Homo sapiens: one gene and its partner. The protein of the gene in region 2 interacts with the protein of the main gene of each other region in a biochemical or structural test. Each region holds a gene or a part of one and is shown on either strand. Other genes may lie near its edges. The genes, in order: MRAS and RASSF5.

Region 1 (3,046 bases), on a different chromosome or scaffold from region 2:
TTACATGTTTCAGCTAGAGTTGCCCAAAGAGCTACCAAGAGAGGGTTTTGGCTTGTACTCCCTGGAAAACGGAGCCTGAGAGATTCAGCTTGGTCAAGTACCCGCCCTATTTAATCAACAAAAATGAAATCACATTGTGCCAAAGACTGTAACCCTAAGGATGGGGGAAGAGGGCAGTTTCTATGAAAAGGAATGTCAGGCAGATAATCCAATAGGTGTCCTGGACAAAGAGCACTGTTTCTGGGCTCCTCACCACACTCCTACATTAGCTTTAGTCCTCCAGCTACTTTGAAGTGCACATTAGTGTCCCATTCACAGGCAAGGCAGCTCAAGACTAAGGCAGGTCATTTGCCCAAAGGCATACAAAGGTCGGTAGTAGGGCTAAAATCCAGATCTGCCCAGTATCAAGAGGTAGTGCCTCTAAATGCTGTGCTAGCCTGCCTTCATCCTCCAGCTCCATGCAGGAAGGAGACACCCCACGGCCACCAGTGGGCTCCTCCTTACTTCAGATCTGGTTAGCACCAAGGTCATGCTCTGTAAGACGTGGATGTTCTGGGCAAAACACCAACAACTCACAATGTTCTCAGCAAAACTTCAGGAATACTGGAGTAAAAGGAACTAAGACAGATACGTGTTTCTCTTCTTTATTAATCAGTCGAGAGATACAAAGACTTAATAAAAAGTTACACAGAAGGTTCAAACATCACTGAGATCTTCAGGCATCACTCGTTTCACGACAATGGCCACCTGTTAAGACTATGAAACAGAAGCTGGGCGCTCACAGGCGCACAATAATTCAAGTATCTTTCATTCCAAGTAAACCCGACATGGAATTTCAAACACAATGGGCTGCCAATGGAGGGAACCTGTCTGTGGCTCCAGATTTGCTGTAACATGTCTGAGGGGCCTTTGGGTTAAAGTTGCCACGTTAGTGGGTCATGTCTCCTGGAAAAGTGAGACAGGCCCCACGAGGCCAGCCAGGCATTTTCCACAGCAAGTGCCATGAGAAGGAGGTGGGCAAAGTCCTAAGAGAAACCATCCAGGTGTCCCGAGTGGCAAAGTGCACAGGTAGTAAGTGGCCATTGTCCCCAGCCGTGGGAGTGGAGAGGATGGCTAGGATTATCTCTGGAAAAAAAAGAGCAGCCCTCTAAGGAGGGTGTCAAACAGTGGAAGAAATCTGAGAGCACACAATGGCAAAGGCATGGGGTGAGGGCATTTCAGGAAGGCTGTGCTCCAGGGGATGTGAGGGTAGCACTATTCTCCGGAAGACCAACGGGAACATGAGGATGTCAAACAGCCAGAAGTCCCAGTTGGCTCCTCGGTCATGGTGTGGCGTGGCCAACCAGGTTTCCCAGTCTGACCCTGCTAGATGATAATGGAGGAGAAGATGGAGGGATGTCACGGGGCACACTCTACACTCTACTCTGGCCTATCTGGAAGCTACCTCAGTCATGAGGGCCCACTTCTACAAATGGGGCATTATTTACCCATTTCATTTATGGGGAAATGAGTTCATGGGAGATGAAAGCTTACCAGAGGCTCAACAGCAGAGGATACAGAAGACCAACCCTTAACTAGTCTCTCTCAGGCACCATGGAGTTCAACGTGGGCCAAGTGCAGGATGGATGAACAGATGCACTGTCCCTTCTGTCCCAACTGTGTGGTTGAAATCCCTATGTCTTCTCACCTTTATGGCCGAGGTCTCTGTTCTACATCAGCTGATCTGCTTCCAGTGAGACTATCAAACTCAGTGCTGTCGAGGAGTTGCAGCTCCACGGTGGGCATGGGGTATGCTCGTAGTGGTTGGTGCCCAGCAGGAGTTTTCTGGCTGTGGACACTGCCCTGTGTGCAGGGCTTCTTCTCCTACTCCGCCATGCTCTTGATTCTGAGCATCTCCATCCTTACTCCTTCCTACCTGCCTTTCCTCCGCCTCACCTCCAGTTTGCAGCTGCCATCAAACTGCACACAACAAACTGCTGCAGATACCACTTAGGGAAGCATAAGGATTGGGAAGAGCTTTGTCCTTTTAGTGTTTAAAATACCTCTTAACACTATAGGGTCTAAGGAAACTTTGAAGTGCCTCACCTGGAATGTTCTCTCTTATCCTTCCTTTTAGGAACAGAAAAAGGGGCAATTTAGACAAATAAGAAGTTTGATTTCCAACAAGCAAAAGTCTCAACTGTCTCCTTTTGTAGCAGAATCATTCTCCAGCTGGGCCCCTCAGTGCTGGTGATCTTGCCGAGGTAGGAACACAGCACATTTTCAGAACCCGGGTGTCTTGGCATCCAGTTGGGTGCTCACTTTCCTTGGGTTTCTTTCTCCAGAGTGGCCAGGCCACCTGCTGAGGATATTCTAGTTTGCATAGTGACCTGATTTGTAACATCTAGAAAATAAGGTCACCAGCTGTGCTGCCTTTTATTCTGACCTTTTCTTTGGTGCAGCGTTGTTCCTGTTGTCTCTCCACTCCCACCCCAGCTGGAAAAACTCCAGTCTTTGGCTCACACCAGCAGCACCTGAGGTGGGGGGGCGGGGGTGAGCATCATCAGGGAGCTGGGGAGACTGCCCCCTTGCAGAAGGTATATGAGAGCCACACATCAGCCCAGCCTTCCTTACTTCTCAGATCATTTTATAGTCAAGATTCAACAGGTCAATAAAAATTGCCAAAAAGGCAACCTAGTACTACTTTTACAAATACTGGAAGGGGTCTGCTCATTGACTAGGCTTATAGAGGTGGTAGTCAGTTGACTCCAAGGGAAGATGGCTTCAGGTCTTGGTGCTGTTTTAGTGATAACAGTATTGAATCATTTTTGGTTAAGATCCAGCATGAACTGGAGTTTTCTGGATGGTGTCCACATTAGGTTACTTTGACGTGTCAGTGTATTCGTATCAGAGAGGCACCAAGCAGCACAGCTGATGTGAAAACGCAGCAAGAGACAGATCTGAGAAACCCAGAGCCTCCTCAGACCCCTGGGGAGGGCAGAGAACTTAACCCATACTGTCTGAAAAACAAATGAACATGTTTGCAAAGCCAATCAGCTTACTTTAG
Region 2 (3,818 bases):
ACTAAGTACCACACATACGCAGATATATGCCTTTGGGTTTCCATGTGCAATGTGGGCCAGGGCCAGAGCCAGGGCCAGGGCAGGCTGCAGCTTCTCTGGAGATCTCTGAGCCAGCCTCAGCTTTGGTGCTCCTTACCCTGAGCATCTGGGGCCAGTAGCTTTATAAACTTCCCTTAAGTGTGAACAACAGGCACCTTGGGGCCGCGGGAACAGTCCTTTTATGAGCATTACCCTGCTTTCAGGGGCTTAGCTCAGACCTGCAAAAGGAATGTGCTACAACTTTTCACTCATAAATAATGGTCCTGTACGTGGCAAGTAAGAGAACTCAAAGAGGAATCAATGCCAGAGAAAGAACACACAGCTCTAAAACCTTTCTTCCTTCCTTTGCCGGCTGGTGTGAGGTTCCAGTTTGGTGACGAGAGAGGCAACTATTTGGTTGGTGAAAGGCTTGCAGATCGAGAGAGGACGTCAGCTGTTTGTTTCACATGAGTTCTGATCCTTGGCAGAATCTGTGGTGGGGCACAGCCTGGGGGCGGGCACAGCTGAACCCTCGTGCAAACACTTGTCCATGGAAGAGACTTTTGCCACAGCTGGAACTGCTGGGCAGGCACAAATGCACCTGCCAGAGATGTCCTGAGAAAAAGTGTCTGTTGCAAAATAATAATTAATAATACAAATAAATCTGAATGCACCAGGAGGAGAGGAAGCAGGACCGGTTACCCAGGTTTGCCCTGGGATTCTCTTAAGGCCTCCTCCAGTTTCTGCCTAAACTTGTCATACTTCTTTTGCACTTGTTGGATTTTGTCCTGCTCCTCTTTTTCCAGGATTGTTAGGAAGTTCTGAAGTTCAGGGATGGAGAAGGCATCCCACTGTGAGGCGAGAGGGAGATTTGTGGGAAGAAACAGAATAGGAGACAGGTTAGAAGTTGACACGACCTGAGAGACCCTGCTGCCTTCCCCTTCCCAGTTCACATCCGTGATTCACACACAGTTTGCTACTGAACAGACTGAATCAGCGAAGCCTGGGCTTTGCATGCCTGTCATAGCAGCAACAAAATTCCAAATGCTGGCATCTCATGACCAAGAGTTGCCAGTCTATGAACCATGTTTTTATTTTGAAACTCAATAATCTTAAGTTTCTGTGTAGCAGCCGAGATCTTGACAGTGATGCTGGAACCACCCAGCCTCCCAACATGCAGACCCTCAGAAAGCAGGTGGAGGAGTGGAACGTGGACTCAGGAGACCGGGGTTGGGCCTGACTCCACCTCTCCCAGCAGTGTGACCTCGAGCACAGCTTTCCACCCTTCTCAGCCTGTTATCTGCTGGGAAATTGGGGTATCTACCTCCCATGACTGGCAGAGCAGATAATGAGAGCCTGACTGGCCCAGGCCTACCCCTAAAGGACTTGGCCTCTGATGGCAGAAGGCAATTTGGACTTCCATCAGGCTGACCCAAGAGCACAAGCCCTGTGCGGCCAACAATTGAGACTCCTAAGCTCTTTGAGCACAATAGAGTACTAAGGTTTATCTGGTTTGGTCCTCGCTATGGATAAGTGAGAAACCTCAAGTCCACACAGGGAAGGTGGCGTAATCACAATCACAGAGCTCATTGCAGCAGAACTGGAACTAGAGCCCAGGTCTCCACACTTCAAAGTGCCTGAGCTTTCCACAGGGCCAGCAGCATTCAGCTACTGTCCATGGAGTACTTTTTCCAAACATATTCTGCACAGATGCCAATAAAGAAAGCAGATGGGAGCAGAGCGGCCCTTGCTGAAATGGGGAGAAGGGACAGAGTCCCAGCTGCCTTGATCCCTAAATCTCCGCAGTGACTCCCAAAACTCCTTAAAACTCTAGGCCTCCACTGAACACAGTGTGACAAACACTGAGACCTTCCCCTGTTGGTCATTCTCAGGCCATGGGTGGCACCGGCCTGGTTTTACTCCAGTTTATGCCACAAGACTACACACTGGTTAGCTCCCCTTGGGGGATGGAGGTCAAGAAAAGGGAGGACAAATGGCTCAAAAACGTCTATACCCAGTGGAGCCCAGAGATGGAGCTTGGTAGCCCTCGGGCCATTTTGAAGCAAAAACAGCCTGTGCCTGAGCACAGGGAGTTTCTTGGTCCCCCTCCTCCCTGAGTTTTCAGAAATAAAGCACATGAAATCCTTTCTTTCCACAGGCCTTGCCACACACAGGCCCTAATGTGCTACCCCAGGGTGTTCAGAGTCCTGGCTGAAACACTGACCCCCAGGCCCATCACCCACCCCTGCTCACTCTCTCAACAGTCACCTTCCTGCCCGTGCTGCGTGGCTCCCACCTATGTGAGGTAGTTAGGACAACACCCACCTGCACCCACCCAGGGTGCCCTAAGGCCTGGGTTTGCACAATGGGTCCAGACCTACCTCTACCTCTCCAGTTTCATTCTCCTTTAGCACAAAGCTGAGGACCTCCGTGTCAGGCCCAGCAAGCAGGCGCAGGTAGAGGGGGCGGTCAGCAATGGAGAGTTTCTGGAAGAGCACTGCAAACCAAGAGAGGGTGCTGGGAGCTCTTCCCAGAAAAGAAGGGCGGGGCCCAGGCTTGCGGGAAAGGATTGGAAATGCAGAGGTGGGGTACGTACAACTGGAAGTAGACACGGGCCTTTTAATGAAATGAACATGACAGTAATGAACAGGGCAATAACCTTTTATCTTGGGTGTCTGCTCAGAGTTTAAAGCATGATTCCATTCACATCATCTCCTGAAAGATTAGGAATGGTGGGGCAGATTCCTCCCATTGCACAGATCAGGAAATGGGAGCCTAGGGTGTGGTTTTCCTGAAGTCACATGCAGAGTCAGGGACTCTGCTCTTGCCTCCCTGCCCGGATTCCACAGATCTGAACACCACATGGGCAGCTGGACCCCTGGTGCTCAGGAGAAGCCCACAGCTCCCACCCAAGGCCGGCAGGAGTTTTAGTGGGTGGGCTTGGACACAGGTAGGAAGGGAACGGTCTGGTTGGGTTCACTCTTTCTCCTACCTTGTCCGTCCTTGTGTATCCGCTTAAAAAGTGCAAACTTCTGGGGATTGTCCACAACCATGAACTTCTTGAGCAGCCCCTGGATGACCTCACTGACGGTGGTGGTGCTGCTGATGTGCAGCTGCTTGATGGCATCTAGGGGCAGGTAGAAGGATGTCCGCTTGTCCGTGGTAGCCGCCAGGTTCACCTCCTTGATGGCATCATAGATGGACTGGGGCCGGATCCCAGCAGGCACCGTCACAGGCCGCCGGAGTTTCAGATGCACTTTGATGAAACCCGTGTAGGTGCCGTCTTCACTCTGCCAGCGGGGGCATGTCACAGGGGGTCAGGGCCGTCCGCCTTGCATGATCATATCTGCCACTCGGGGCCATTGCCCCAGCAGCACCCACCTGTCTCCTTGAGTTCTTTCCTGCCTCTGCTGACGTGGGAGAGCTGGAGGAAGGAGCAGAGATCCCTTTCCCCATAGTGGGCTGGGAGAAGACCCTCAGGATCCAGCTACCAAAGAGGACCTGTGGGGCTGCAGTGGATTTCCCTCCCAGGAGGCTCAGGCCAGCTCCCTAAACCTCCTGTAACCAGTTGCCTTTGGTGAGTGCCCATTGTAAGAGGCAGGGTGTGGGGTAGCCACTCTAGTTTGTACCTCTGAACCAGGCAGGAAGCAGGAAGGCTCTATAATGAGGGCCTTGGAGAACCAGCCCACTAGATTTCCTCCTGTATCTCTTTACTAAGAAACAGCCTTTAAGACTTAAACCTAGGTGCATTTGTGACTGGATTTTCTGGTGCTCCATCTGGCTGAACCCCAAAGAGCCAG

What was found.
Region 1: the proteins of RASSF5 (region 2) and MRAS form a complex in vitro, tested with the Homo sapiens proteins (one study listed by BioGRID).

What each region holds. Positions count from the first base shown.
Region 1 is NC_000003.12:138,403,118-138,406,163, reverse strand, and holds the end of MRAS (ras-related protein M-Ras isoform 1 precursor), read right to left. Parts: 3' UTR 631-3,046; downstream 1-630. UniProt on the Homo sapiens protein: Signal transducer in the Ras-MAPK signaling pathway that regulates cell proliferation and survival. Core component of the SHOC2-MRAS-PP1c (SMP) holophosphatase complex that regulates the MAPK pathway activation.
Region 2 is NC_000001.11:206,583,877-206,587,694, reverse strand, and holds part of RASSF5 (ras association domain-containing protein 5), read right to left. Parts: intron 3,309-3,818; coding exon 3,011-3,308; intron 2,516-3,010; coding exon 2,400-2,515; intron 870-2,399; coding exon 717-869; 3' UTR 1-716. UniProt on the Homo sapiens protein: Potential tumor suppressor. Seems to be involved in lymphocyte adhesion by linking RAP1A activation upon T-cell receptor or chemokine stimulation to integrin activation.